7 linked regions of the Homo sapiens genome follow. The protein of the gene in region 1 interacts with the protein of each later gene in a pairwise test. Each region holds a gene or a part of one and is shown in the gene's direction. Other genes may lie near its edges. The genes, in order: alpha-crystallin A2 chain, LOXL4, RBFOX1, COL9A1, SPATS1, TMPRSS6 and TUT7.

What was found.
Region 2: the proteins of alpha-crystallin A2 chain (region 1) and LOXL4 interact in binary tests that used the Homo sapiens proteins (3 or more experiments, as listed by UniProt).
Region 3: the proteins of alpha-crystallin A2 chain (region 1) and RBFOX1 interact in binary tests that used the Homo sapiens proteins (3 or more experiments, as listed by UniProt).
Region 4: the proteins of alpha-crystallin A2 chain (region 1) and COL9A1 interact in binary tests that used the Homo sapiens proteins (3 or more experiments, as listed by UniProt).
Region 5: the proteins of alpha-crystallin A2 chain (region 1) and SPATS1 interact in binary tests that used the Homo sapiens proteins (3 or more experiments, as listed by UniProt).
Region 6: the proteins of alpha-crystallin A2 chain (region 1) and TMPRSS6 interact in binary tests that used the Homo sapiens proteins (3 or more experiments, as listed by UniProt).
Region 7: the proteins of alpha-crystallin A2 chain (region 1) and TUT7 interact in binary tests that used the Homo sapiens proteins (3 or more experiments, as listed by UniProt).

The regions. Positions count from the first base shown.
Region 1 is NC_000021.9:6,505,703-6,509,202, forward strand, and holds part of alpha-crystallin A2 chain, read left to right. Parts: intron 1-1,100; exon of another isoform or gene 1,101-1,687; intron 1,688-3,500. UniProt on the Homo sapiens protein: Contributes to the transparency and refractive index of the lens. In its oxidized form (absence of intramolecular disulfide bond), acts as a chaperone, preventing aggregation of various proteins under a wide range of stress conditions.
Region 2 is NC_000010.11:98,258,195-98,261,694, reverse strand, and holds part of LOXL4 (lysyl oxidase homolog 4 precursor), read left to right. Parts: intron 1-567; coding exon 568-773; intron 774-2,265; coding exon 2,266-2,304; intron 2,305-2,466; coding exon 2,467-2,686; intron 2,687-3,500. UniProt on the Homo sapiens protein: Catalyzes the oxidative deamination of lysine and hydroxylysine residues in collagen and elastin, resulting in the formation of covalent cross-linkages, and the stabilization of collagen and elastin fibers.
Region 3 is NC_000016.10:6,017,550-6,021,823, forward strand, and holds the start of RBFOX1 (RNA binding protein fox-1 homolog 1), read left to right. Parts: upstream 1-1,474; 5' UTR 1,475-2,349; coding exon of another isoform or gene 2,350-2,352; 5' UTR 2,353-2,443; intron 2,444-4,274. UniProt on the Homo sapiens protein: RNA-binding protein that regulates alternative splicing events by binding to 5'-UGCAUGU-3' elements. Regulates alternative splicing of tissue-specific exons and of differentially spliced exons during erythropoiesis.
Region 4 is NC_000006.12:70,293,085-70,296,584, reverse strand, and holds part of COL9A1 (collagen alpha-1(IX) chain isoform 1 precursor), read left to right. Parts: intron 1-2,021; coding exon 2,022-2,418; intron 2,419-3,500. UniProt on the Homo sapiens protein: Structural component of hyaline cartilage and vitreous of the eye.
Region 5 is NC_000006.12:44,363,150-44,366,649, forward strand, and holds part of SPATS1 (spermatogenesis-associated serine-rich protein 1), read left to right. Parts: intron 1-3,500.
Region 6 is NC_000022.11:37,106,914-37,111,201, reverse strand, and holds the start of TMPRSS6 (transmembrane protease serine 6), read left to right. Parts: upstream 1-1,488; 5' UTR 1,489-1,699; intron 1,700-1,764; exon of another isoform or gene 1,765-1,863; intron 1,864-4,288. UniProt on the Homo sapiens protein: Membrane-bound serine protease. Through the cleavage of cell surface hemojuvelin (HJV), a regulator of the expression of the iron absorption-regulating hormone hepicidin/HAMP, plays a role in iron homeostasis.
Region 7 is NC_000009.12:86,326,911-86,330,410, reverse strand, and holds part of TUT7 (terminal uridylyltransferase 7), read left to right. Parts: intron 1-1,918; coding exon 1,919-2,071; intron 2,072-3,500. UniProt on the Homo sapiens protein: Uridylyltransferase that mediates the terminal uridylation of mRNAs with short (less than 25 nucleotides) poly(A) tails, hence facilitating global mRNA decay. Essential for both oocyte maturation and fertility.

The DNA.
Region 1 (3,500 bases):
TCTCATTGCCCAGGCTGGAGTGTAAGGGATGGCCTGATCTCGGCTCACTGCAACTTCGGCCTGCCAGGTTCAAGCGGTCCTCCTGCCTCAGCCTCCCAAGTAGCTGGGATTACATGCATGCACCACCACACCTGGCTAATTTTGTATTTTTAGTAGAGACAAAGTTTCACCATGTTGGCCAGGCTGGTCTTGAACTCCTGATCTCAGGTGATCCACCCACCTTGGCCTCCCAAAGTGCTGGGATTACAGACATGAGCCACCGCACCCGGCCAAGTTTTTTCTTTTTTTATATGTAATAAGTTGGATAAAGTGTTTATAAAAAGTTAAAAGTAGGCCCTCAAGCAGGTAAAGTAGGCTTGCTTCTTTTCAGAGCTATCCATGCTGATTCCAGGCATAGAGAATGCCTCCTTTGCCCTATTCATTAAAGGGCTTCACCCTGAAGTCAGTAATCTAATAGAGAAACAAGCTAAGTTGAAAAGACCCTGTGATGGTTAATATTAGCTGTCAACCTGATTGGATTGAAGGATGGTAAAGTATTGTTCTTGGGTGTGTTGTGAGGGTGTTGCCAGAGGAAATTGACATTGGAGTCAGTGGACTGAGAGAGGAAGACCCACCCTCAGTGTGGGTGGGCACCATCCGATTGGCTGACAGTGTGGCTGGAACAAAGCAGGTGGAGGAGGGTGGGAGAAGCTGGCTTGCTGAGTCTTCTGGCTTTTGTAGCCACCCAGTGAGTTCACCTAGCCGGCTGCCTAGATGGAGCGGATTTATCAGGACAGGGGAATTGCAATGCAGAACGAGTAATTTACACAGAGCTAGCTGTGCGGGCGACTGGAGTTTTATTATTACTCAAATTAGACATCCCAAGAATTTGCAGATCAGAGTTTTTAAAGATAATTTGGCGGCTCAGGAAGTAGGAGTGCTGATTGATCTGGCTGGAGATGGAATCACAGGGAGGTCAAAGTGAGGTTTCCTTGCTGTCTTCTGTTCCTGGGTACAATGGCAGAACTGGCTGAGCCAGATAGCCGGTCTGTGTGGTATCAGCTGATCCATAGAGTACAGGGTCTTGCAGAATAAATACCTCAAGCACTGATCTTCGGATTACAATGGTGATGTTATCCCCAGGAGCAATTTCGGGAGGTTTGGACAGCCAGAGGCTGGATGACCTTTAAATCAAAATTTCTTTTTTTTTTTTTCAAAGAAGCCCCATTTTATTACAGAGAGCATACAAAGCCGTTTCCTCATAAGGAAAAGTACAGCTTCCCTTCTCCAGGGTGACAGATGAGCCTTTTCTGAAGTTCTCAGCTTTCTCTTCTATCGATATTTCCCATGTCAGTTAAAGTGTTTGTAGAGACAGCTGATGCGTTTATTGAGGTTGTGCAGCTCATCAGCAAACATTCTGTTTCCAACCATTTTCTTCTTTAGCATACAGCGTTGCAATTCATTCCCCTTCCAATCTCGAAGCCATATGGGGTCCCTGATCAGCTTTTGGGGTGCTTTTCAAAGTTTCCCAGGATCCTGATGTTGTCATACACTCTGAACATGGCCATCCTTTCGTTCCAAGGATCAACTACTTTGGGGGGTAGGAGCCTTATACCAATCAATCTAGGAATACCAAGAAAGAAGCTTCTGCATGCCACACCTAGTCCCACAGGCGCCTACCTGCCCTACATAAGAGGCTCCCTGCCATTTCTCTAGTCTGCCCCTTCAACAGCACACCAAATAAGCCCAAGAATGAGGACCAGATGTGGCCTTCAAGAAGACAACAGGAACCGTCCCTGTCGACTTCACACGGGTACTAACGTGAAGGCAGCCACCTTGGGCCTTAAAATTTCTAATCTTGTAGCTAATTTGTTACTCCTACAAAGGCAGACTGGTTCCTAGGCAAGAAGGGGATCTTTCTGGGAAATGGCTATTATCAATTTTGTTTCAGAGTCAAACTATAAGCTAAATTCCTTCCCAAGGTTAGTTGGCCTGTGCCCAGGCATGAACAAAGACAGCCTAAAGGTTAGAAGCAAGATGGAGTCAGGTAGGTCTGATCTCTTTCACTGTCATCATTTCCTCAGTTGTAATTTTTGCAGAGGCAGTTTCACTTTCATCTTTCTCCTGTGCTGGATGCCTCCTCCGTTCCCCCTGCCCTTGGACATCAGACTCCAGGTTCTTTGGCCTTTGGACTCTTGGACTTAAGCCAGTGGTTTGCTTGGGACTCTCGGGCCTTCAGCCACAGATTGAAGCCTGCACTGTTGGCTTCCCTACTTTTGAGGCTTTTGGACTCCGACTGAGCCACTCCTGGCTTCCTTCTTCTGCAGCTTGCAGACGGTGTATCATGGGACTTCACCCTGTGATGGTGTGAACTAGTTCTCCCTAATATACTCCCTTTCATATATATGTCTATTCTGTTAGTTCTGCCCCTCTGGAGAACCCTAACTAATGCAGACCCTTGTGTAACTTTGATATCCAAAATATGGCTTTCTAGCATTTAGCTGGCTATTTTGAAACTCTTTGTAAAAAAAATTTATATATATGAAGGAAATCTCCATTTGTAAGGGTGTCTCCCTCCCTGCACCCAAACTGCTAGAAACTGAAGATGGGGAAGACATTGGCTGAAGACACTGTCTTACAGTTTACATCACAGACCTTGCCTTCGGTGGAAATACTTTTCCTGGCAACCTCGTCTTCACTAGGTGTAGGGACCAGCCCCACAGGATCGGTGGGTTTTTCTCCCCATGTGCAGAGACGAGAGATTGTAGAAATAAAGACACAAGACAAAGAGATAAAAGGAAAGACAGGTGGGCCTGGGGGACCACTAACACCAAGATGCGGAGACCGGTAATGGCCCCGAATGTCTGGCTGCGTTGTTATTTATTGGATACAAAGCAAAAGGGGCAGGGTAAAGAGTGTGAGTCATCTCCAATGATAGGTAGGGTCACGTGGGTCACGTGTCCACTGGACAGGGGGCCCTTCCCTGCCTGGCAGCCAAGGCAGAGAGGGGGAGAGAGAGAGACAGCTTGCGCCATTATTTCTGCATATCAGAGACTTTTAGTACTTTCACTAATTTGCTACTGCTATCTAGAAGGCAGAGCCAGGTGTACAGGATGGAACACGAAGGCGGACTAGGAGTGTGACCACTGAAGCACAGCGTCACAGGGAGATGGTATGCCTTCGGATAACTGAAGGTGGGCCTGAGGCCCTCCACAAGAGATGGAGGAGTAGAGTCTTCTCTGAACTCCCGTGGGGAAAGGGAGACTCCCTTTCCCGGTCTGCTAAGTAGCCGGTGTTTTTCCTTGACACTGACGCTACTGCTAGACCATGGTCCGCTTGACAACAGGCGTCTTCCCAGACGCTGGCGTTACCGCTAGACCAAGGAGCCCTCTGGTGGCCCTGTCCGGGCATAACAGAAGGCTCGCATGCTTGTCTTCTGGTCACTTCTCACTATGTCCCCTCAGCTCCTGTGTCTGTATGGCCTGGTTTTTCCTAGGTTATGATTGTAGAGCGAGGATTAT
Region 2 (3,500 bases), on another chromosome or scaffold:
GCCCAAGCCAAACAACAGGAGCGGGCAGGGCAGGGCTCTGCTGCCAGGCAGCCTCCAGCCTCAGGACAGCTGGCCATGGCCACTGAATGCAGCGTGTTGTGATGGGGACTCTGTACTGGTCTAAGTCATCCCAGGGCTAGGGTTGGGGGTTCTTGTGGGCCATAGGATCCTGCTGTGGTCTCAAGCAGCTGGTCTATGCCCATCTCAGCTCTCTCAGGGTGGTACAGAGAAGGCCCTTCCATGCCCAGCAAAAGCCTCCCAAACTCCAAGGGCTCCCATCCTGATCCCAGCGGGGGCCAGATCTGCCTAGTTCTCTCCAATTTGACAAATTCGAGGAACTGAGGGAAAGGGCTTAGACAAGCTGAGGTTCTGCCTTGCACTTACTCTGTGGCCTTTGATAATGCCTCCCCTTCTCTGGGCCTCAGTTTCCTGGCCTGTTCAATGACCGGGCTGGGTGGGATGGTCTCGAAAAGCTCCAAGCCCCAGCCTTTCTGCATGAAGATCTGCAGCAGGCTCCACTGGAGGAGCAGGAGCCCCGAGGCCCACAGGTGACTGTGCACCCCGCAGGGCCGGCGGCTGGAGGAGGTGCGGCTCAAGCCCATCCTTGCCAGTGCCAAGCAGCATAGCCCAGTGACCGAGGGAGCCGTGGAGGTGAAGTATGAGGGCCACTGGCGGCAGGTGTGTGACCAGGGCTGGACCATGAACAACAGCAGGGTGGTGTGCGGGATGCTGGGCTTCCCCAGCGAGGTGCCTGTCGACAGCCACTACTACAGGTAGGAGGGCGGCTGGCGTAGGCCCCACAGGAGGCAGGGTTGTGGGGCAGGGACTGAGTGTGTGTTCATGTGCGTGCATGTGATGTAGGGTGTGTGCATGAGTCTGAGTGTGGACTCATGTGAGGGGCAAGTAAGTATGCACACAGGCGAGTGTGTGATGTGTGTGGCATGTGGGACCTCGCAGAGTTCAGTGAGTACTGACTGGCAGTGGTGTTGTCTGTGGCAGGACATCCAGCAGGTGTTGGGATTGGGGGAGAGAAAACAGGCCCTACTGAGGAATGTGCCCAGATTTCTTGCTTCACGGGTGCCTCAGAATAATAAACAGGAAAGTGAATAAGGAGGACCTTCAGGATCCTGGGAAATACCTAGAAACAGTCAGAAAACAAACACTGCACTCTCGAATTATGTAAACAGAATTAACTAGGTACAGAACGCCCCCCCACCCCCCGCCCCCGGTGAAAACAGTTGAACATAAAACCGCGTGTCCTTGGTTAAAACACTAGACTTTCCTGCAGATACTTGCAGTGACACCCACGTGTAGAGTTTAGACAAACTGTTCTGGCCTCAGCTCAGCCAGTGACTGGCGTTAGGGCTTTGGGGAGGGCCTCTGAGCCTCCATCCTCAATTCCACTGCGAATATCCCAACGCTTCCCTCCTGAATTTCCTCAGCTCTGATCAAGCCAGGCTGTGACTGGGTTGTGTGTAAGTGAGGCGTGGGGTGGGGCACCTGGAGAGAGGAGACATAAAAATATTCTGTCAGAAACAAGGCGGAACTGTCACAACTGATTGCATCAACCAGTAAACGACAGCCACAGTCATGGTTCTGCCAGATCCGTGTCAGGGAGGACTTGTGTGTTTCCCATCAAGTGAGAAGTCTCCCGTAGTACGTCTGAGTCATCTGCCACCCCAATCAGTTTGATCCTGCTTCCCTAAAGGGTTAGAAGGCCCTTGTTGCAGTGACTTAGAGGAACCCCGTTCTGAGGAAACAGGGGTGCTGGTCAGCCTCTGGCTCCATCCTTGGGGATCCTGGGATGCAGCCTGACTCCCCCTGCCTGGTAATTGCACACCTGGGTCTCGCTGACTTGCCTGCCACCCATGAGGAGGGCAGGCCTGATGGTAGCCTGGGTGTCTCTGGGCGGGCCGCCCCCACCAGCAAGGCCTTCACCTCCCACCTGTCCCCAGAGGGCCCCTTCTCTTGGGCCCTCCCTAAATGCTCCCCTTCCTCTGGACTTCGGAGAGGGCAAGCCTGATCCACCTGCCCCCACTCTAGGACTGGCCGAGGGACCTTGCTTGCCTTCCTTGTAAAATGGTTATTTGTGAGGTGGCCACCCCGTCAGGGCTGCTGTGAAGCTCAGCATTGAAATCAGATTAGTGAATAAGTTTACAAAATGTAAAGTCCTGTGCAAACTTAAGGACAACTATGAGGAACCAGGTGGCAGGGGGTGGGACTTCCACACCCCTTCCACCTCCTATCTGTTTTCTCCCATAACAGGAAAGTCTGGGATCTGAAGATGAGGGACCCTAAGTCTAGGTGAGGAGCAGCACCCTAGAGGGAGGAGGCAAAGGGGTGTGGCATGAAGGGCCTCTATCCCATCCCCTACCCTCCCCTTCCCTCCTTTCTACCTTGGCCTCCCTTAGTCCTGAAGCTCTTCCCTCAGCCCTTCCTCCACCCTCAGTCTCCCTTGTCCTCTAGGCTGAAGAGCCTGACGAATAAGAACTCCTTCTGGATCCACCAGGTCACCTGCCTGGGGACAGAGCCCCACATGGCCAACTGCCAGGTGCAGGTGGCTCCAGCCCGGGGCAAGCTGCGGCCAGCCTGCCCAGGTGGCATGCACGCTGTGGTCAGCTGTGTGGCAGGGCCTCACTTCCGCCCACCGAAGACAAAGCCACAACGCAAAGGGTCCTGGGCAGAGGTGAGCCCTGGGCATCCTGCACTCACACCACAGCTTGGAGGCACGGGCGGGACACTGCCTGGTGGGGGGTGCGGGGAGGTCCAGGACACGCAGGAGAGAGGAACCAGACTGGGAGGAGGAGAGTGAATCACAGAACTGTAGAACCTTGGAATGTATTTAAAAGGGATCATTTATAGCCCTACCATAAATGGAAAGCTGACATCACCCGCCTTGAATAGAAGGTGACCGTAAAAACAGTAATTAAATCCTAACTACATTCCACTGAGGGCTGGTACTGATCCTGAGCCTGCTCCTGAGCCTGCTCCTTTGTTTTAAAGAGGAGATGAGCAAGTGCTTATGAGGTGGTAGAGACGCCTCAGTGCCAAACTGAGATGCCCTCATGAGGTGGTACAGATGCCGTGAGGTGGTACAGATGCCTCAGCGCCACACTGAGATGGCCTCGTGAGGTGGTACAGACACCTTAGTGCCACACTGAGATGGCCTCGTGAGGTGGTACAGATACCTTAGTGCCACACTGAGATAGCCTCGTGAGGTGGTACAGACACCTTAGTGCCACACTGAGATGGCCTTGTGAGGTGGTACAGATGCCTTAGCGCCACACTTGAGACGGCATCCTTGATGAGGCTGTGGGGGTGATTGGTCATTGAAGAAATGGAGATCAAGAAAAACAGCTTATTCAGGGTGACAGCTATGGGAAGTCAGAAGCAGGACTGGAACTCCCCATCCTTGGCTCTGGCCACCGCCATGGAACTTGAAGGAGCCCCGTTGGGGATCCCGCTGTGGGGGCTCAGCCCCTGCTGGTGCCTCCTCCTCA
Region 3 (4,274 bases), on another chromosome or scaffold:
TTATCAAAGAGAATCCTAAGGAAACATATGGTAAAAATCAACCCAAATTGCAAAATCGCTGGGACCAATGATAAAGATATCTTTCTGGATTTTGCAAACTTACTTTTTCAAATGATGATTAAATATTGCGTGCTTTAAAAAGTAATATAGTTATAGGCAGAAGTTCCCTTTCTTTTATTCTGAGGTTGAAAGAAACCGCAGCCCGATAGGATTGCAAGAGGAACCCTTAAGGAATCTGCTCCTTGATGGGCGCTAGGAAATACACGTACATCTAGTACAAAGGAATGCACATCACATGGCCCCCTGTTTTGGAAAGCTTACAGCATTTCTTATAAGAGGATCCATGGTATAAGTGCAAACACAGTCACATCACAGGATGGGAAAATGAACAGGCGCCTCAGATCAAGTGCTCAAGGCTGGAATCTGGCCTTGTCCAATGCCACCTGCCCTTCAGAAGGCAGGGTGGTGCCACATAAAATGAGGTAGACTGCCTGGGGAGTCCTGGTTCCTTGCCAGCTATGTGACCTTGAACAAATTACAACTCACTGAACCTCAGACTGACTTTATTGTACAACAAAACCCCCTGGAATATTTGTGGAAAAAAGAGGAAGGGAGAAAGGAAGGAAGGGAGGAAAGGAGGAAGGAAGAAAGGGAGGGAGGAAGGAAGGGAGGGAGGGAAAGGAAAAGGTAGGGGAAGAGCAGAGTTTCTCACTCCAGTCCAGAGTGGGACCCAGGAAGGGAGAAATATTGCTTTAATCTCTCTAAGCATCTGTGAAATGGATAAACCTCCAGTATCTACTTCCAGTTGTTGAAAAGACTCCATGTAAAGTGCTTAAAACAGCATCTGGTGGAAAGTAAATGCTTATTAAGTGCTAGTGTGTATTAAGGCGTCATGGGGCTTCTGGCTGTAAGACATCTGCTAGGAGGACAATCCCTAGACCCCTTCAGCGTCCATTGCGGGAGTAGGTGGCCAGGAAGGGGGCAGGACAGGAGAGGCCCAGCTGTGCGGGGTGGGGGCGTCCCAGGCCAGCCGCACCCACCCCAGCCCTGCATCCCATCCAGCCTGGAGAACTTTTTGAATCTTGGATAGGGCTCGATCTCTGCCTGGCCGGAAGATTTGAAGACTTGCCAGAAAACTTCCTCAGAGAAGAAATGGACTGGGGCAAGAAGCTGCCTCCACTTGGCGTCTCTAGTGGGGGATTTGTCTACTTTGATTGGGGTTGGGAGGAGGGCGCTGGTGCTCAATGAGTGAGCCCACCTGGGGACTACCAGGACGAGGACGGGCGCAGGTGAAAGTCCTGGGCTCATTGCCCCAGCATCCAACTTTCACCCTCTGTCCCCTTTAGGCCAGGAGACCAGGGTACCGGGTCGCGTGTCCGCCGCCGCCGCCCGCTGGAATCCAGGGCTGCACGCGTGACCGCGGCGGCGGCGGCGCTGGCGAGGGGAAGGGGGAGGGGGCGCTCCCTCGCGCACCAGATTATTTTTGGCTCCGCAGCCGGGGCTGCTCGCTGCTTGTCGCGCGCTCACACACACACAGACACACACGCACACACACACATGCACACATTTTCTCGCGCTCTCTCCGGCTCTCCTTTGTTTATTTTCTAATCTATATTTTTACTGGAAGATTTCCTCTTTATTCTCTCCCGCCCTCCTACAAGCGCTCTTGCTGGCCGTCTGGGTGCACACACCGCTCCCTCGATCACCCCAGCCCCCTTCCTGGTCTCCCGAGCGCGGGGTTTGAAGGTCACCTCCTTTCCAGTCCCCGTGCGAGCCGCGCTGCCGCCGCCTCCTCCAGCCAGAGTCGGTGGGACTGGCTGCGCTGCCCTGAAGTGGTTCTCCAAGCAGCGCGGAGGGTGGCGGACGGCGGACGGAGCCCAGGGGCCGCGTCGGGTGGGGAAACCCGAACTCGCGGAGGGGAATCCCTCCCCCTCCGCCCCAGCCCCCCAGCAGCACCCGCGGTGGGGCGGGGGCGCTCTGCCAGCCCCGGGAACAGCAGAGGCGGCGGCACTGGCTGGACCCACGCGCGCGCCTCCGGGGCTGAAGAAGGAAGGAGTGAGCCGAGCCGAGCACCCCACATCTGGAGGGGACAGCCAGCCGTGGGCCCCGCCCCGGCGTCCGGAGCAGGAGAACTCCGAGCTTCTTGCCCAGGCAGAGAGAGCAGGAGCGGACCGCGCGCCCGGGATTGAGAGTCCTTGCGCTCCAGACCCCCACCCAGTGGCCGCCAGGGTCCCCGCCTGTCCGGACCCTCGCCGCGCCCAGGCAGGCGCGCCAGGGCGGGGCTGACCTGCCCGCGAAGTTGCGGACAGTGCGTGAGAAACCAGCACCCCCTTCCGCCGCCTCCAGCTTATGGTGAGTGTGGCTGGGGGTGCAGAGAGCGCACGGGAATTCGGGGGTCTGGGGCCGAGAACGTGACCGCAGCCGGGCTCGCCGGGAGTTCTAGGTAAGTCCAGGCGGAGTCATTGCCTCTGCACCCACCCTGACCTGGTGGGTCAGGTCCAGAAGGTCTCATGGAGGGAAGCGCTAGGTCCCCGAGAACTGGCCTCCTCCTAGCGCCAGTCTGGGCGCTCTGGACGGGAACTTTTTCAGGGTGTGTGGAAAGATCTCGAGGCGTGTCCCCCCCTACCCCCAGGAGGCCGAGACCCTGAGCCCCCTTGTGCGTCGCTTCCAGAAGCACGTCCTTCCTTGCCCCAGAGCGCCCCTCCGAAGCATCCAGGCTACCTCGTCCGTCCTCCTGGGAGCGAGTCCTAGGTGCCAGGAGCAGCGGGAGCCTGCCTGCGCACTTTGATTAGTCTCCCTGGCCGGCTGCAAGCGTGCACTCAGCGCGCCCCCGGACCGCTGCCTCCGCCCGCAGGGTGTGCAGGAGGAGGCATCTTAGTGACCCGGGAGGGTGTTTAGGTGCCCCGAACCCCTTGTGGGAGGAGGGGAAGAGAAGGCTCACTTATGTGGAGAAAGCGCCGCTGTGTTTACTGGCACTGGAATCGATGCCCCGCGGTGCCACCTCGACCCCAGGGGAGGGGGCCAGCCGGGAAACCTGCGAATGGGAAACTCCTACTGTGCCCCTGGTTCCTGGGAGCCTTAGAGAACCTTCACCCCAGAGAAGGAAACACAGGGGTAGCAGATCTTAGCCCTGTGTTGTTGTGCAGGCCAGGGGGGGGCTTGTCAGCTCCAATCAACCAATTGTCCAGCTATGGAAGCGAGGGCGGGGCTAGTGGGGCGCCGCTCCCATCTCCCCACCGCCCAGGAGGCCACTTGGCTGTGAGCTCCTGGAGCCTCCCTGGCGCCAGCTGCGGGGACCAGGTGTCACGCGGAGCCCGGAAGCTGTCCACTCAGCAAGGGAGGGGAAGACCCCGATCTAACCTTGTCCTGGAGCCCCCAGCTCCATTCCTTGCTGCCAGGGAATGGTCAGGGGGCTGGGAGAGCTCATCGCTCCTGTGTGGGCCAGAGCTGGGGTGCACCTGCTGGCACTGGAACATCTGGGGTGCGGCTACTGAAGAGCTTGGAAATCCTGGTCAGGCAGTCCGGGCAATTGGCACCCCAAAGGCGGATCTTTTCAGTTGAACTTGAAAAGAAGTGGGGGAGTGTGGTGAAATAGCTTTGTTGAGTTGAAACATCATGTCTCCTAACTTGGGTTTTCCTTTATTAGAATAATGATTGTTTATTTTTATTTTTAAACTCCGTTGTGCAGAGAGGCCTGGCCTTGACAGCCCAAGTTTAGGACATGCCCCAGCCTGCCATCCCTTCCCTGCCCCCTGTCCTAGTTCATCTCCCCTCCATTTATCATTTTATCTTTGTTACAAAAGAGAGAAAAAAAAGATGAGAGGGCCTGGATTCTTTCAATTTTTAAGTGACCACAGAGGCCCCGGCTGGAGCTACTGGCAGATTTATTTTTAGCTAAGATCTTTTATGTTCAGAAGCAAAGGACCTGGGGCCTGTGAAGGGTAAAGGTGGTGCTGGCAGTGGCTGTGCTGGTAAAAAGTGGGGCTGACTCAAAACCTGTGTCCTCTTTGAGCTCGTCAGGGAGGCCCTCCGTTTGGAAGAATCCCCTGGGCTTTCCTTAAGTTAGCTTATGGTTGCCTCGGGTTAGGAAGAAAAGTCATCATTCCTCGCGGTAGTGGAAGTGACACCTTAGGGGTCCAGAGAGTGGAGCTTTATGGCTCAGAAGAGCACAGGGCTTCTGGATCCGTTATCTGCCAGCTGTGTGACCTTGGGCAAGTTGCTTTACCTCTCTGAGCTTCGGGTTGTCACCTGTAAAATCAGAGTTTCAGTCGTAG
Region 4 (3,500 bases), on another chromosome or scaffold:
CCAGAATAGATATAATTCTGAAAAATATAAAGTCAAAGAAAATATGACAAACTGATTGATAAACAGGAAGTATATTAAAAACAAATATCTGGAGTCATGTAGTAGACAGTTTCATATGGGGAAAATAGGTCAGTCAATGGTTCTTGTATAATTTTTTTCTGTAGCTCCATATTGAATATTTTAAAATGTACACTTGAGGGATATAAAACATAGGTAGTGAACTGAAAACTTTGCAGTAAGATTAATACATGTCACCAGTGAAAAAAAGATGTATGGATAAAATAATTCATCCCATACCCTAAATACAAACCAGTCATATTACAAAGTAATGGTTAAAAAAAATACTTCTATGATGAAAGAGTATTCAGATGAAAAGTTAACCTTTTTGTTATCTTTAGAAAACTAACAAAGTGATAAAATTTGTTGAGATAGTTGACTTATTTTATTGAGGGCTTGTAAAAATATTTGTATAAAAGAAGTTAAAGATTTGTTTATGTTGTTATAAGACATAATAAAGTTTTATAATTAAAATCAAAGTAAAGATAGAAGATCTTAGCAAATTAAAGAGGGCTACATAACAAGAATTTGACTTGAAGGAAGGTTATTTGGGATTCTGGGTCCTGGTCCATAACTGTTCTCAGAAATATAAAATTTTTATTGTTTAGCACAGAAAATTCATTAGCATTTAGTTTGCCTAGCATTTCTTCCTTGCTTAGGAATTTTTCTACGCTTAGAAGGAGAAATGTAAAAAGACATAATGTTCAAGTCCTTGAAAGATGATGCTTACATTTAACATGCTGATTTTTAAAGTTCAGTCTTCAGCTTTTAGCAGCTTGGCTTCAGCAAAAGAATATCCAGGTAGCTGGTGCAGCTCCAGACCACAGTCTCTGTATAGGGTAGAGATGCCTCAGGGACACTACTGGTTTTATTCTGCCATTTAAAGCAGTAAAGGAGTTAGCAATGATACAGACTTAGTTGGCAGATTAAGGAACAACTGGGCCGGATGCAGTAGCTCACACCTGTAATCCCAGCACTATGGGAGACTGAGGCAGGAGGATCACCTGAGGTCAGGAGTTCGAGACCAGCCTGACTGACATGGCGAAACACCATCTCTACTAAAAATACAAAAAATTAGCCAGGCATAATGGTGGGCGCCTGTAATCCCACCTACTTGGAAGGCTGAGGCAGGAGAATCACTTGAACCCAGGAGGTGGAGGTTGCAGTGAGCTGAGATGGCGCCATTGCACTCCAGCCTGGGCAACAAAGTGAGACTCCATAAAAAAAAAAAAAAAAAAAAAAAAAAGAAGCAACAACAGAGTTGCAGTAGAGAAGTAAGAATTGGTCACTTTTCCCTTGCCACATATCCAGTGTCAAACTGCTACTTTAACATCATAATTTGAACTCCCTAAAAAAAGACAAACATCCTCAGTGTGAAGAAGCTCCTGAAGTCCTCAGTTACTGGTTCTCAAAATACTTATATGGGTCTGGGATATAATTGTGGAGTGGAATACCCAAGCAATTATGGAAATAACAAATAATCTTAACATGCTACTTTAAAATAAAACAATTAGAAGCTGCTAGCTGCTTTAATTAAATTGTTTCATAAGCTAGTACAGCTGATTTACATTCCTAATGATCTCCTCTCTCACTTGTGAATGAAATATTGCCAAGAACTTTGCAAGAATGTATTTTTTGGCTGAGATGAAATTGCTGAACAGTAGCTCTTTGGGTAGTATAAATAGTAATATTGTTGGGATTATGTGGCATTGGGAACCTTCCTTAGCCATGAGGGAGGGTGTTTTTAAAATGTGTAATTTAAGACGGACCATGAATGTACAGGAATGATTGAACTTCTGTAAAGGTCTTTATGAACAGTCATGAAAGAACAAACGGTACATAGGTTTTTACACTGTAGCTTTTCTATAGGTCTGGCATCTAAAATGGCCTCAAAAGGGAATGTGGTAAATACATATGGGTACAGGAAACAAGATGCATGTTTACTATTTAAAAATTTTACTCAGGAATTTATATCCCAGTGGACTGCCTGAAGAATACTCCTTCTTGACGACGTTTCGAATGACTGGAAGCACTCTCAAAAAGAACTGGAACATTTGGCAGATTCAGGATTCCTCTGGGAAGGAGCAAGTTGGCATAAAGATTAATGGCCAAACACAATCTGTTGTATTTTCATACAAGGGACTGGATGGAAGTCTCCAAACAGCAGCCTTTTCGAATTTGTCCTCCTTGTTTGATTCCCAGTGGCATAAGATCATGATTGGCGTGGAGAGGAGTAGTGCTACTCTTTTTGTTGACTGCAACAGGATTGAATCTTTACCTATAAAGCCAAGAGGCCCAATTGACATTGATGGCTTTGCTGTGCTGGGAAAACTTGCAGATAATCCTCAAGTTTCTGTTCCAGTAAGTATAAAACCACACACTATGGCAGATTAAAGCAAAACTAGATTGGTAAAAATGAACATCTCAAGCATCTTTGATAATCAGCTGAGTGCAGCATGTCCCAGATGGAATTTGGAATCAGAGGAAGTTAAGTAGATAGCTTCTGGTCTTGAGGAGCTTAAAGTTGGAAAGTGTTACATGCCCACCTAGTGCACCCAGAGTCTTTCTGAGGCAACTTAGAAAGAAAGCCATACTGATGTGGCACATATTGTGTACACATAACTAATAAAAATATTCAAAGTAAGGTTGAGGTAGGTGACAGATTCAGTTAGTCAAGAATCCCATGCTTCTTGGAAGCAATGCACTTTGAAATGAAAGGATTTGGATTGGCAAAAAGAGAGGAGAAAGTACATTATAGCTGAGGGAAACACCATTAAGGGAAAAAGTTAATAAGTAGATCACATTCAAAGGCCTAGGGACTCGCTGATTTGGATGATATATGTATATGAAAATGTGTGTGTGTGTGTGTGTGTGTGTGTGTGTGTGTGTGTGTGTGAAAGAGAGAGAGAGAGGAGGGTGAGACATACTATCTTCAGAGTGGTGAGAGATGAGGTTAGAAAGCCATATGATGTCTGGTCAACAAGAATGAAAGTTATATAGATGCATAATATTGATTTATTTAGAAGTAGGTCTTGCACGACGTATTGTAGAAGTGAAGGATTTTAGAGCTCTGTTCATGATTTTACTGCAGAGATCCCCAGATATAAAGGTAAGGAATTACATGTTGACACAATAATTGTGCCAACTAGTACAAGATAGTTCTATCATTTTGAATTGTTATACTTTGAGCAATGCTTTAAAAGGATGTTTTATAATATTATGATAGGAATTTAGAAAATATGTCTTAGAGGACAAGTGTTCTTTTGAAGGAAACAAAGGAATTTAGAGCTCAACAAATAAATCTTGAGGCCAACCTCTCTTTCTCTCTCTCTTTCTCTCATACTAGCACGGAGCTGTTAAATTCTAGTCACAAAACCCATATCACGGAGTGTAGCAGGGTGATACAATGATTTCAAATTGTTTCTGTGCATGTCTCCAAAGAA
Region 5 (3,500 bases), on another chromosome or scaffold:
TAAGACAAGGTCTTGCTCTGTGGCCCAGGCTGGAGTGCAGTGCCACCATCTTGGCTCACTGCAGTTCCGAATGCCAGCCCCCCAGCCCCAGGCTCAAGCAATCCTCTAACCTCAGCCTCTAAGTTGCTGGGACTAGAGGCATGTGCCACCATGCCCGGCTGATTTTTCTATTTTTAGTAGAGACAGGGTTTCTCCATGTTGCCCAGGCCAGTCTCAAACTCCTGGGCCCAAGCGATTAGCCGGCCTTGGCCTCTCAAAGTGCTGGTATTACAGGTGTGAGCCACTGCAGCCAGCCTACCCTGCACTCTTGAGCTGCAAGTACCTATCAAAAGTAAATGGGATTATCATAATGACCTAAATCTCAATCTTGACTTATCACTGCCCTCCTGGCTCAAAAGTAAACCACCTTATCCTGAATTTTATGTTTATGATTCTTCCCTCTCCTTTCCTTTCTTTTTCTTTCTTCTCCTTTCCTCTTCTTTTTCTTTCTTTCCTTCCTTCCTTCCCTCCTTCCCTCCTTCCTTCCTTCCCTCCTTCCCTCCTTCCTTCCTTCCCTCCTTCCTTCCTTTTTCCTTTCCTCCCTCCCTCTCTCCATCCTTTCATTTCTTCTTTCCCTTCTTCCTTTAGGGTTTTATAAATACTGAGTAAATGCAATGATATATTTATGAAACATTTGTTGACTATATAAAATGAAATATCACAAATACTTGCGTTCTTTTACTCCACTTAAGAAATAAAATTCTAACTTTATATTTGAAGGCTCCAATATCCTCTTCCCCGAATATTCCATCTTTCCTCCTCCAACTCCAGTGGTAACCCATATTTCATATTTTTTTAAAGAAAAACTTATTAGGTAAATTTTCAAACAATAGCAAAATGAAACCCGATGTACTCATCCACTTAGCTTCAATAATGATCAACACCTGGCTAACTTGTTTCATCATTACTCCTCCTCCCAGGGATTATTTCAAAGCAAATTTCAGACATCATATTATTTCATCTCTAAATATATCATATGTGCCTCTGATAGATAAGGATTATTTTATTAACATAACCACAATTCCATATCATAATATCATATTTTAAAAATTAACAGTAATTCCTTAATATAGTCAGTGTCCAAATATCCCATTGTCTCATAAATGCCACAATTTAAAAATATTTAGTTTGTTTGGATCAGGATCCAAGTAAGGCCCACAGATTGAAATTGGTTGGTATGTCTGTTAAGTTTCTTTCTCCCTCCTTTTTTCTTGCAATTTGTATGGTGAAGAAACTAGGCCTTATCCTGCAGTATTCACCATGATCAGGACTTTGCTGATTACATTGCTTGGTATCATTTAACAGGTTCCTCTTTCCTGTGTATTTCCTGTGAAGTGGTAGTTGGGTCTACAGGCTTGATTCGTTTTAGTATATGATTACTTCTTAGGTGATGTACAGTGACTTCTTTAAACATCAAACGCAATGGTCTTTTTCCATTTCTTCTCTTCCTTGATCTCACTGCAGCACTTGATACTGTCAAGCTTGACACTGGATACTTCTTCCTTTGTGAAATTCTCTCCCCACTCTTTCTTTCTTTTCTTTCTTTCTTTTTTTCTTTCTGTCTTTCTTTCTTTCTTTTTCTTTTTCTTCTTTTCTTTTCTCTTTCTTTCTTTCTTTCTTTTTTTTTTAGACAGAGTCTCGCTCTGTCACCCAGGCTGGAGTGCAGTAGCGTGACCTTGGCTCACTGCAACCTCCGCCCACTGAGTTCAAGCAATTCTCATGTCTCAGCCTCCTGGGATTACAGGCATGTGCCACCACTGCCGGCTAATTCTTGTCTTTTAGTAGAGACAGGGTTTCACCATGTTGGCCAGGCTGGTCTCCAACTCCTGACCTCAGATGATCCACCCGCCTCGGCCTCCCAAAGTGCTGGGATTACAGGTGTGAGCCACCACTCCTGGCCCCCACTCATTATTTCTTGGATGAGATGAAGTGGTAGGCTCAGGGACTGCCAACCAGCTGCCATTTTAAACTGGAATGCAACGCATTATTATATCAAAAAATCAATCAAAATATCTTTAAATAATGGTTGACTGTTATCCATCAGCCATAACCAGGATATTGGTGGAGTTCCCTAAAGGCCTAGCTGTTGCCACAGAACAAAATGCCATCTATGATTGTAGGTGGTAGGGAAATAGATCTGAAAATACAATTTTCTATTGTGTAGCTCTTCCCACAGTACAGCATATTGTATTAGTCAGAATAGGATAGATTCTGCCGCAGTAACAGTCCCTGAAATCTCTGCAGCTTAAGCACTAAAGTTTGCTCCTTTCTCTTGTAAAGTCCACTGTGGATCCAGCAGCTCTCCAGGACAGCTCCTTTCCAAGGATGCTGTCTGCTTTTATCTGTGACCTTTCCATCTCAACCTGTGGCTTCTAAGATTGCCATAGAAGGGTAAAGAGAAAATGCTGGAAGGTTTTTCACATCAGCTCCTTAAATGCTTCTTTTTAAAGTGGCACATATCATCTCTGCTCACAATCTATCAGTCAGAACATGGCTCTACCTAAACGCATCGGGGCACTGAAATGTGGGGCAGAGTAAGTTATTTGGTGAACGGTTCGCTCCCTTATATGGTTATTTGTCTCTAAATGTATGTTTCCCATTTTCTACCTCCTGAATGTCTACATCCAGGAAATTGGATGGTCTGTCTAAAAACAAACAAGCATTAGAACTGATCATGCAGTGTTATGGGTCCATCAGCTATTGATACATAGTGGCCAGCCCTTTGGGCTGATACCTGTTTTGGTGAGATATCCAGAAATTATACCAAGGCCCCATATTGTACTTAATAGCTTAAACAAACATGTTATCTCAGAAGTGTTGTTTGGGAGATTTTCCCCCTAAAAGTAACACCTTATACTGACATCACACCATTGCCTCTTTTTCTTCCTCCTGACATTATCTTGTGATATCTTTTACCATAGTCTATATATATATATATATTTTTTTTTTTTTTGAGACAGAGTTTCGCTCTTGTTGCCCAGGCTGGAGTGCAATGGTGCGATCTCGGCTCACTGCAATCTCTGCCTCCCAGGTTCAAGCGATTCTCCTGCCTCAGCCTCCTGAGTAGCTGGGATTACAGGCATGTGCCACCATGCCCAGCTAATTTTGTATTTTTAGTGGAGACGGGATTTCACCATGTTGATCAGGCTGGTCTTGAACTCCTGATGTCAGGTGATCCACCTGCCTCGGCCTCCCAAAGTGCTGGGATTACAAGCATGAGCCACTGCGCCTGGCCACCATAGTCTATTTCTAGGTGTTCTCCTTAGACCACCTATATCATAATCAACTGGAAAGTTTATAAAAATTACTGGTTCTGGGAACTATTAGAGATCTTCTGAAACAGAATTTCTTGGGTTAAAGGCTGCATTTTAAACAAGTTTCCTAGGTGATTTTCAGGTGTGCTAAAATTTTGGAACCACTGTTCTATAGTATATGGCATTTACTGCTTTGTAGTGTTACCT
Region 6 (4,288 bases), on another chromosome or scaffold:
AATCTTATACCCCACACACAATCCCTACGCTCCACACACACACACACACACACACACGCACATTCTACACATACATAATCTACACACACAAATTCCAGACTGTCTCTCTTACACACACACTCTGGGACCCATATGCCCACAGCACACAGCATCTCAGGCGTGCACCCCGCATTCTGGCCTCAGGATGTAGACTCGCTGAAAGTCAGCCTTGTCTGAGACAGACGCCCGCTGCCCTGCACGCACCCTAGAAAGCCCTGGCTCCCATCCGGCACTTCGGCACGCATATGGCTCAAACCCATCTCCACAGCAACGCTGTTCCATAGAACAACAACGCAGGTCACACTTGTGACTTAACCTGTCTAATATCCACATGCAACAAGGGGTGTGGTGGCCCGCGCCTGTAATCCCAGCTACTTGGGAGGCTGAAGCAGGAGGATCATGTGGGCCCAGGAGCTCCAGACCAGCCTGGCAACCTAATGAGACCCTGTCTCTGAAAAAAAAAAAAACAAGAGAGCCAGAAGAAAATTGCTTTTAATAATACATTTTATTTATCCCATGATCACCAGTGTTATTTCAACATAAAATCAATATAAAAATTGTTATCGCGTTGGTTGACATCCTGTTTGCACTTGGCCTTGGAAACCTGGTGTGCGTCTCCCCCGTGCAGCTTTTCTCAGTTCAGACTGACTCAAGAGCCACGGGTGACCAGCGGCTACCGTCATGGACAGCACAGCGCTACGGAACCAGGTAGGAATTCATGCTGCGTGCGGTCGCTCATGCCTGTAATCCTAGCGTTTTGGGAGGTCGAGGTGGGTGGAATCACTTGAGGTCAGGAGTTCGAGACCAGCCTGGCTAACATGGTGAAACCCCATCTCTTCTAAAATTATGAAAATTAGCCGGGCATGGTGGTGGGCGCTGTAATCCCAGCTACCTGGGAGGCTGAGGCAGGAGAATTGCTTGAACCCGGGAGGCGGAGGTTGCAGTGAGCCGAAATCACACCACTGCACTCTAGCCTGGGTGACGGAGTGAGACTCCATCTTAAAAAAAAAAAAAAAAAAAAAAAAGAACGAGGTAGGAATTCAAATAATTCCCAGCTAAACAGAAAATAGCATCAAACCCCACCCCTGCCTCCCCTTTCTCCTCTCCAGTCCCCAGAGTATATGGGCCCAGCCTCCTTTTCTCTCTCTCAGGCCAGCAGCTCCTTTAGTCTCGCCTGTCCAGGTAAGCACCTGGACTCACCCTTGTGAGCCCCTGCACTCACCTGCACCGGCCTCTGCACAGTCCCCAGTCCTTGGCTGTCCCTACCTCATGCTCTCGGGGACCAGGGGCTGTAACCAGGCAGGCATGTCACCAGGCAACGGGCCTCGGGGGAGAGCTCAGATCTCCCGCACCTGCCTGCCAGCCTCTGGGGTGCCCATGCGGGGGTGGGGGAAGATGGGGCGGGGCAGGCACTGCCTTCTCCTACCTCCTGCCTGTTTACCTGTACTTAGTCACAGTGCTGTCCAGGACCCAGCAGGAGGAGTTCCATGGAGCCTGAGGCCACAGGCCACAGGGGACAAGGGCCAGACACCCTGGTCATGGCTCTAGGCCATTGATCCAGCCTGGGCTGGCTGGGTGGGGGTGGGGAGGCCTTGGCCTGGACAAACAGAGGCTCCTGAGGCCTGTGTGCAGGCCCGGCACCTATCTGCCGCTCCCAAAGGTAAGCGGGGGCCTCCAGGACAGGGGACCGGGATCTATAAATGACCTAGTGACAGTGTCCACCCTAAGAGCTGGGCCTGGCTCCCTGCAGCCTGAGCCACCTACCCTGCTCCGAGGCCAGGCCTGCAGGGCCTCATCGGCCAGAGGGTGATCAGTGAGCAGAAGGTGAGGGGCCCACAGAGCTGGGGAGGGGAGGGACCACGCAGGGTGACACCAGGTGTGTGGACAGGCACAGCATCAGTGCTGGGTGGTTGGTGGCCTGGGATTCAGGTGGCAGGGACAGGAGGAAGGGAGAGGCCACCCTACCCCTGCCTCGCAGGACTGGACATGCTGCCCCCTCCACACCCGGTACCCCACCTGGGCCTTCTGGTGTAGGAGACAGGCCCGGAGCCCCACATTGCACCTATGTACTGACTTAAGCCCAGGACCCTGGGCTCACAGGCTCAGAGTTGGCATGTATGTGTATGTGTGTTCGTGTGTGTGTCTGTGTAGGAAGGGCGTGCATCTATGAATTTTTGTGTCATGAATAGATGTGCGTATATCCCTCCGCGTGTCTCCATCTGTGTACATCTGTGGGTCTGTGAGTGTGTTTATATGTGTGGAAGGGACCCCCACCCAGTCCCCCACACTCTCAGGACTCTAGGGCCTAATGGTTTCACTGAAAGATGCCCCTATGGCCCTAGCCCAGAGTCCCTGCTCTGCTCTGCTCTGCCCTGGCTGAGGGACCTCGGGTAAGTCATGTTACCTCTCTCTACCTCAGTTTCCCCAGCCATTAAATAGAGTCAGCAAAGTAGGCACCCCAGGCTGTTGGAGGCTGCAGTGGAGTTTGCAGCACTGCCCAGCACAGGGCTGGCACATGGTAGGAGTTCATACGCAGTGGTTGAATCCGGATCTGCATTGCTGGGGGAGTCGCGGCCCCGCCCCAAGGAGCTCAGCCTCCAGCAGGCAGACCCGAGACCCTCCAATGGCCAGAAGGGCAGGAGGGAGTGAGGAGCAGGTGCCAGGGTGGGGTCCATGGTGCTCAGAGCTGGGGGACTGCTTCAGGCCCCTGTGGCAATTGGAGCACAGTCCCCGCTTCCAGGAGTTCAATGTGAGGGGCAAAGAGAGAGTGCCCACAGGTAAGCTGCACATCGCGAGGGGCAGCCGCCCCTTCTAGGGCACTCTGGGAGAGCTGCGAAGAGGTGAGGTCTGAACTGAGGTGACAGGGGCTGCATAAGAGCTGGCCAGGTTGGGAGGTGGGGGCCCAGGCAGAAGGAAGAGTGTGGGGACGCCTGGCCGTGAACAAGCACTGACAGGGCTCAAGGTCCACGAGGGCTCTTGGTGCCGGCTGGCTGCTCTTAATCCATAAATGTTTGCTACCATCCCATTGTTAAAATTTCTCACCAATGGAAGTCCAGTGTCCTTGGGGTGCGACGGGGAAAAGAGAGGGTGGGAAAAAAGGAGGCAGGAGAAGTTGGCCAGGCCACATATGCACACAGCACCTTGGACTTCTGTAGGGAGGAAGGAGCTGGGACCTTGTCATTCATTCATTTAACAATTACTGAGTGTCCGCTGAGTACCAGACTCTGCTCTCATGCAGCTTACAGACAGGGAGGAGGCAGATAAATGACATATTTGCATATCAGGCAATTTAGGCCTCTGTAATTGCTATAAAGAAAAATGCAGGAGAGACGGGAGTGCCCAGGGAAGGCCTCTCTGGAGAGGTGACATCTGACCCTTTGGAGGAGGTAAAGGAGGGAGCCACGAGGCCAGCAGAAAGGAAAACATCCCAGGCCCAGCAAGGAGCAAACCTCCCATTCAGCAAAGAGGACAGGAAAACTGAGACCCTGGGTCTTTAGGGACTGTGTTCTAGGTGGATGGAAGCCGTGCGAGGCTTGTGGGCAGGGCACATGGTGACAACACGCAGTGGCCATTGTGTGAGAACTCACTGGGTAGGGGGGTGGGTGATTGGCTATTGCAGGAGTCGAGGTGACAGATGACGGTGGCCTGGATGATGGTGGGAGTCATGGGGGGCCAAGAAGGGGCTGGCTTTGGGGGGCATTTGGAAGGTAGGGCCACAGGCTTTTCCAAAGGTGCTGGACCCTGGGAATGGGGGAGCCGTTGTATTATAAGATAGTAAAGACAAGAGTGGCACCGTCATCTTCACAACTGTCCACTGCCCCTCCTCCTGCTGGGCAGGAAACCCAAGAGGATGGGAATGAGGTCTCTTAGAGTCACCATGTGCCACCCTGTCGCCACCACAGAGCCTGGCACCAAGCAGGTGCTAGACAAAGATAGGGTGACTGAGCATTGAACCTGGGACCCCACAGGCCCACACCATTGTCCATGCCCCAGTGCCAGGCCTCACAAGTCCTCCTTCCTGGAGGCAGCAAGATAGAAAGCCCTGTACCAGGGGCCTAGAGACTTGGCAGTTTCATTCACTCATTCTTTCTGATCCTTCACTCATGTGACGGGCTGTGCGGCGTTCCATGGGGAACCCCAGAGGTGAGCAAGATGCTGGCCCTGCCTGTTCTGTAGGGGACAGAGGCAAGACCCAAAGCCAAGGCATATTCTTGATCTGATCAAGGGCTGCCCAGGGGAGGGGGCAGCT
Region 7 (3,500 bases), on another chromosome or scaffold:
ATGGCCAGGCACCAACTAATTCTGGGTGTTACTGTTAGAAGTGGTGAACAGGGCCGGGCATGGTGGCTCACGCCTGTAATCACAGCACTTTGGGAGGCCAAGGTGGGTGGATCACCTGAGGTCAGGAGTTGAAGCAGCCTGGCCAACGTGGTGAAACTCCATCTCTACTAAAAAAATATAAAAAAATTAGCTGGGCATGGTGGCAGGCGCCTGTAATCCCAGCTACTTGGGAGGCTGGGGCAGGAGAATCGCTTCAACCCAGGAGGTAGAGGTTGCAGTGAGCCGAGATCATGCCACTGCACTCCAGCCTGGGCAACAGGGTGAGACTCTGCCTCAGAAAAGAAAAAAAAAGAAGTGAACAAAACACAATTCTTGCCCTCGAATTTATACATCCAATTGGGGCAAGAGACTAATAAATATATATGCAGTGGTGGTACTTTCTCTGAGGAAAAATAAACCAGGGTAAGGAGGACAGAGAATGATAAATGTGGAGCTCCTTAGAGAAAACATTTGAGCAGAGCTGAATAAAGTGAGGGAGAATGAGTCATAGTCTCCCTCACTTTGTTAGGGGGAAGAGCATTTTAAGCAGAGGGAATACCAGGTGTCATCTCTGAGCCAAGAAGATAGAAGGATCAGAGAAGTAGAAAAGAGCCAGGTTACTCAGGCCCTGGAAAGGACTGCACTTCATCTAGAGTGAGACAGAAACCACTATGAACAGGAGAGTGTGTCTTCTGTTTTAGAAGGATCACTCTCTTCTAAACCAATGAAGTAGCCCATTTGGTATAAAAATACATTTGGGAAATGTGATGTCACATCCATACTCCATCCCATATTATTTTGTTCATTAACCTGTTTTTGTTTGTTTTTTGTTTTGTTTTTTTTTTTTTGAGATGGAGTTTCGCTCTTGTTGCCCAGGCTGGAGTGCAATGGCACCATCTCGGCTCACTGCAACCTCTGCCTCCCAGGGTCAAACAATTCTTCTGCCTCAGCCTCCTGAGTAGCTGGAATTACAGGCATGCGCCACCATGCCTGGCTAATTTTGTATTTTTAGTAGAGACGGGATTTCTCCATGTTGGTCAGGCTGGTCTCGAACTCCTGACCTTAGGTGATCCGCCCACCTCAGCCTCCCAAAGTGCTGGGATTACAGGCATGAGCCACCATGCGTGGCCTGTTCATTAACCTGTTTTAAAGGCTGTGATAAATCCTATCATACGATGAAGAAACCTGTTCAGCTCCGTTTGACATTTCACAAGCCTTTTCAACTAGACCATTTTCTTTTGCATTAATATTCATTAATAGCACATAAAATTTACTTTGAAAATGTCCAGCATACCCAGAATTAATAGTATTTAAAATTATTTTCTAATTAGCTGGATCTAGTTCTTGTAATTTTCATTTTCTAGCAATATAGTTGTCTTGTATTTATTAAGCAGTTACTATGTGCTGTATGCTACAAGCAGATACTACCTCTATCTGAGTGCCTTATGGTCATTTTTTTTATATCATAACCATCCCATGAAGGAAGTCCTAGTGTTACCCCTTTTTAAAGGAACCTGAGGCCTACAGAGAGTAAGTACCTTACTCAAGGTTATACAGCTAGTATATGAAGGAGCTGAGATTTGGGACCAGGCAGTTTTACTTCAGAACCCATGACGTCAGCCACTAGGCCATTTTGCCTACTCTTAGAATATTTACTGAGGAATTATTTCACAAAGTCACCATTTCTTTTGCAAATCAAAACCTTGTTTTTTACTTTTAAAAATATTTTTAAATGTATAGATGTCTCTGTGATAGTCCATAAATTATATCTTTTGTATTTTCGTTGAACTATGAGTATTTTTTTATTCCAAGATTAGTAGACTGTGTTTGATATAAGATTATTTCTATCTTATTTTAGCATGTGTCTAATTTTTCCTAGATTGAAGGATTCTCATTAAGCAAACTAGGGAATTTCAACCTTCAAGACATTGAAAAAGATGTTGTGATCTGGGAACATACTGACAGTGCTGCAGGGGACACAGGCATAACAAAAGAAGAGGCACCAAGAGAAACGCCGATTAAAAGGGGACAGGTCTGTTCTCTTTTGTTTCTAGTTGTCAGTTTCACTTGCCAATTGTGAAGTTGTGGATTAGTCAGTCTTGTCTTCTTTCCTTAACTATCTTTACTATTTCGTGGCTCTTTCATTTGCCAGTCTGTTTAGTACCTCGAACAGACAAGTAATGAGAAAAGGTTAAAAAAAATATTAGATCACTAAATCCACAGTTATTTATGTAGTTTCTTTGTGCTGGTTCCTTTGAAAGAGACTCAGAATTCAAAGGTAAATCCATATCTATCCTCAAAGAGCTTAGTCTTAGGTGGTATTATGAGGTTTAAATGTATGAAAGGTTAACTAGCTTTCAGTTACTAAAATAACAGTGAATGCATATATGATTTAATGTACCGGTCCCATACTGTTGGGGGTGGGCAGGGGAATTTATGCACAAGGAAAGAATAGCCATTAGAATTTCAAACAAAAATCTCTGCAATGTCATTATCCTAGTAATAAGAATAAGATTCTCTCCCAAATAGGTGAAAGGCCCCTGATCTTCCCGTTACCTTTTGGGGTAAATTGACAGTAACATCCACAAAATTCTTGGAATCGAATCCCAGCTTTATACAAACAAGTCATGTCACTCCTCCAGTTCATGTTTTACTCATGCCTAAAATGAGGAGTTAGTGGTGAATCAGATTTTCCAGTTGTGTTTTCTAGAATCCTTGAACACTGGGAGGAGGAGGAGAGTGGTGGTACCACCCTACCTCTGCTGCCACCAGAACCACTTTTATCTGTTTCTTATTTGGAGTCTCTGTAGTGGAGAAGAGTATAGGCTGTGGAGCCAGAATATGTGAATTTGTATCCCAGCTCTCCCACTTCCCAGCTGTGTGTCCTTGGGCAAGTGACTTCGCCTTTCTGTGCACCAGTTTCCTCCCTACTCATGGGGATAATATTGGTACCCTCTCATAGGGTCACTTACAGAATGCTTAACTCAGTGCCGAGCATGTGGTGAGCACTCAGTAAATGTTAGCTGCTATTCTTATTTTATTTGAAAAAGAAAATGTTCTCTGCTTTAAAGAAAACCAGTTTAAGTTCCTGTAGTCTAGATATTTCAAAGGTCTCTCCAGTTTCATGTTATGGTATTATCAAGTCATTTCAGTGAGATGCTTAAAAATCCTTTGTAATGCCGCTATGGATAAAGAGGTAAAATGTAATAATGCTTAAAATTTCTGGGGGGTTTATTTGTGTCCTCAAACTGTAGTGTTTGGGACTTAGACAACTTCCATTTTTAATCAGTTCTGCCTTGTAAAGCCACCAGATGACTTTGTATTACTTGACAGAACCTTTGTGATTGAGAAAAATAGACCACTGATTTTGAAGCTTAATATAATAAAGTATGATTGAAAACAAATTTGTGCACCTTAGAGGAAATTACTTTTTTCAGTGTGAATTATAGGAAAAGCTATTG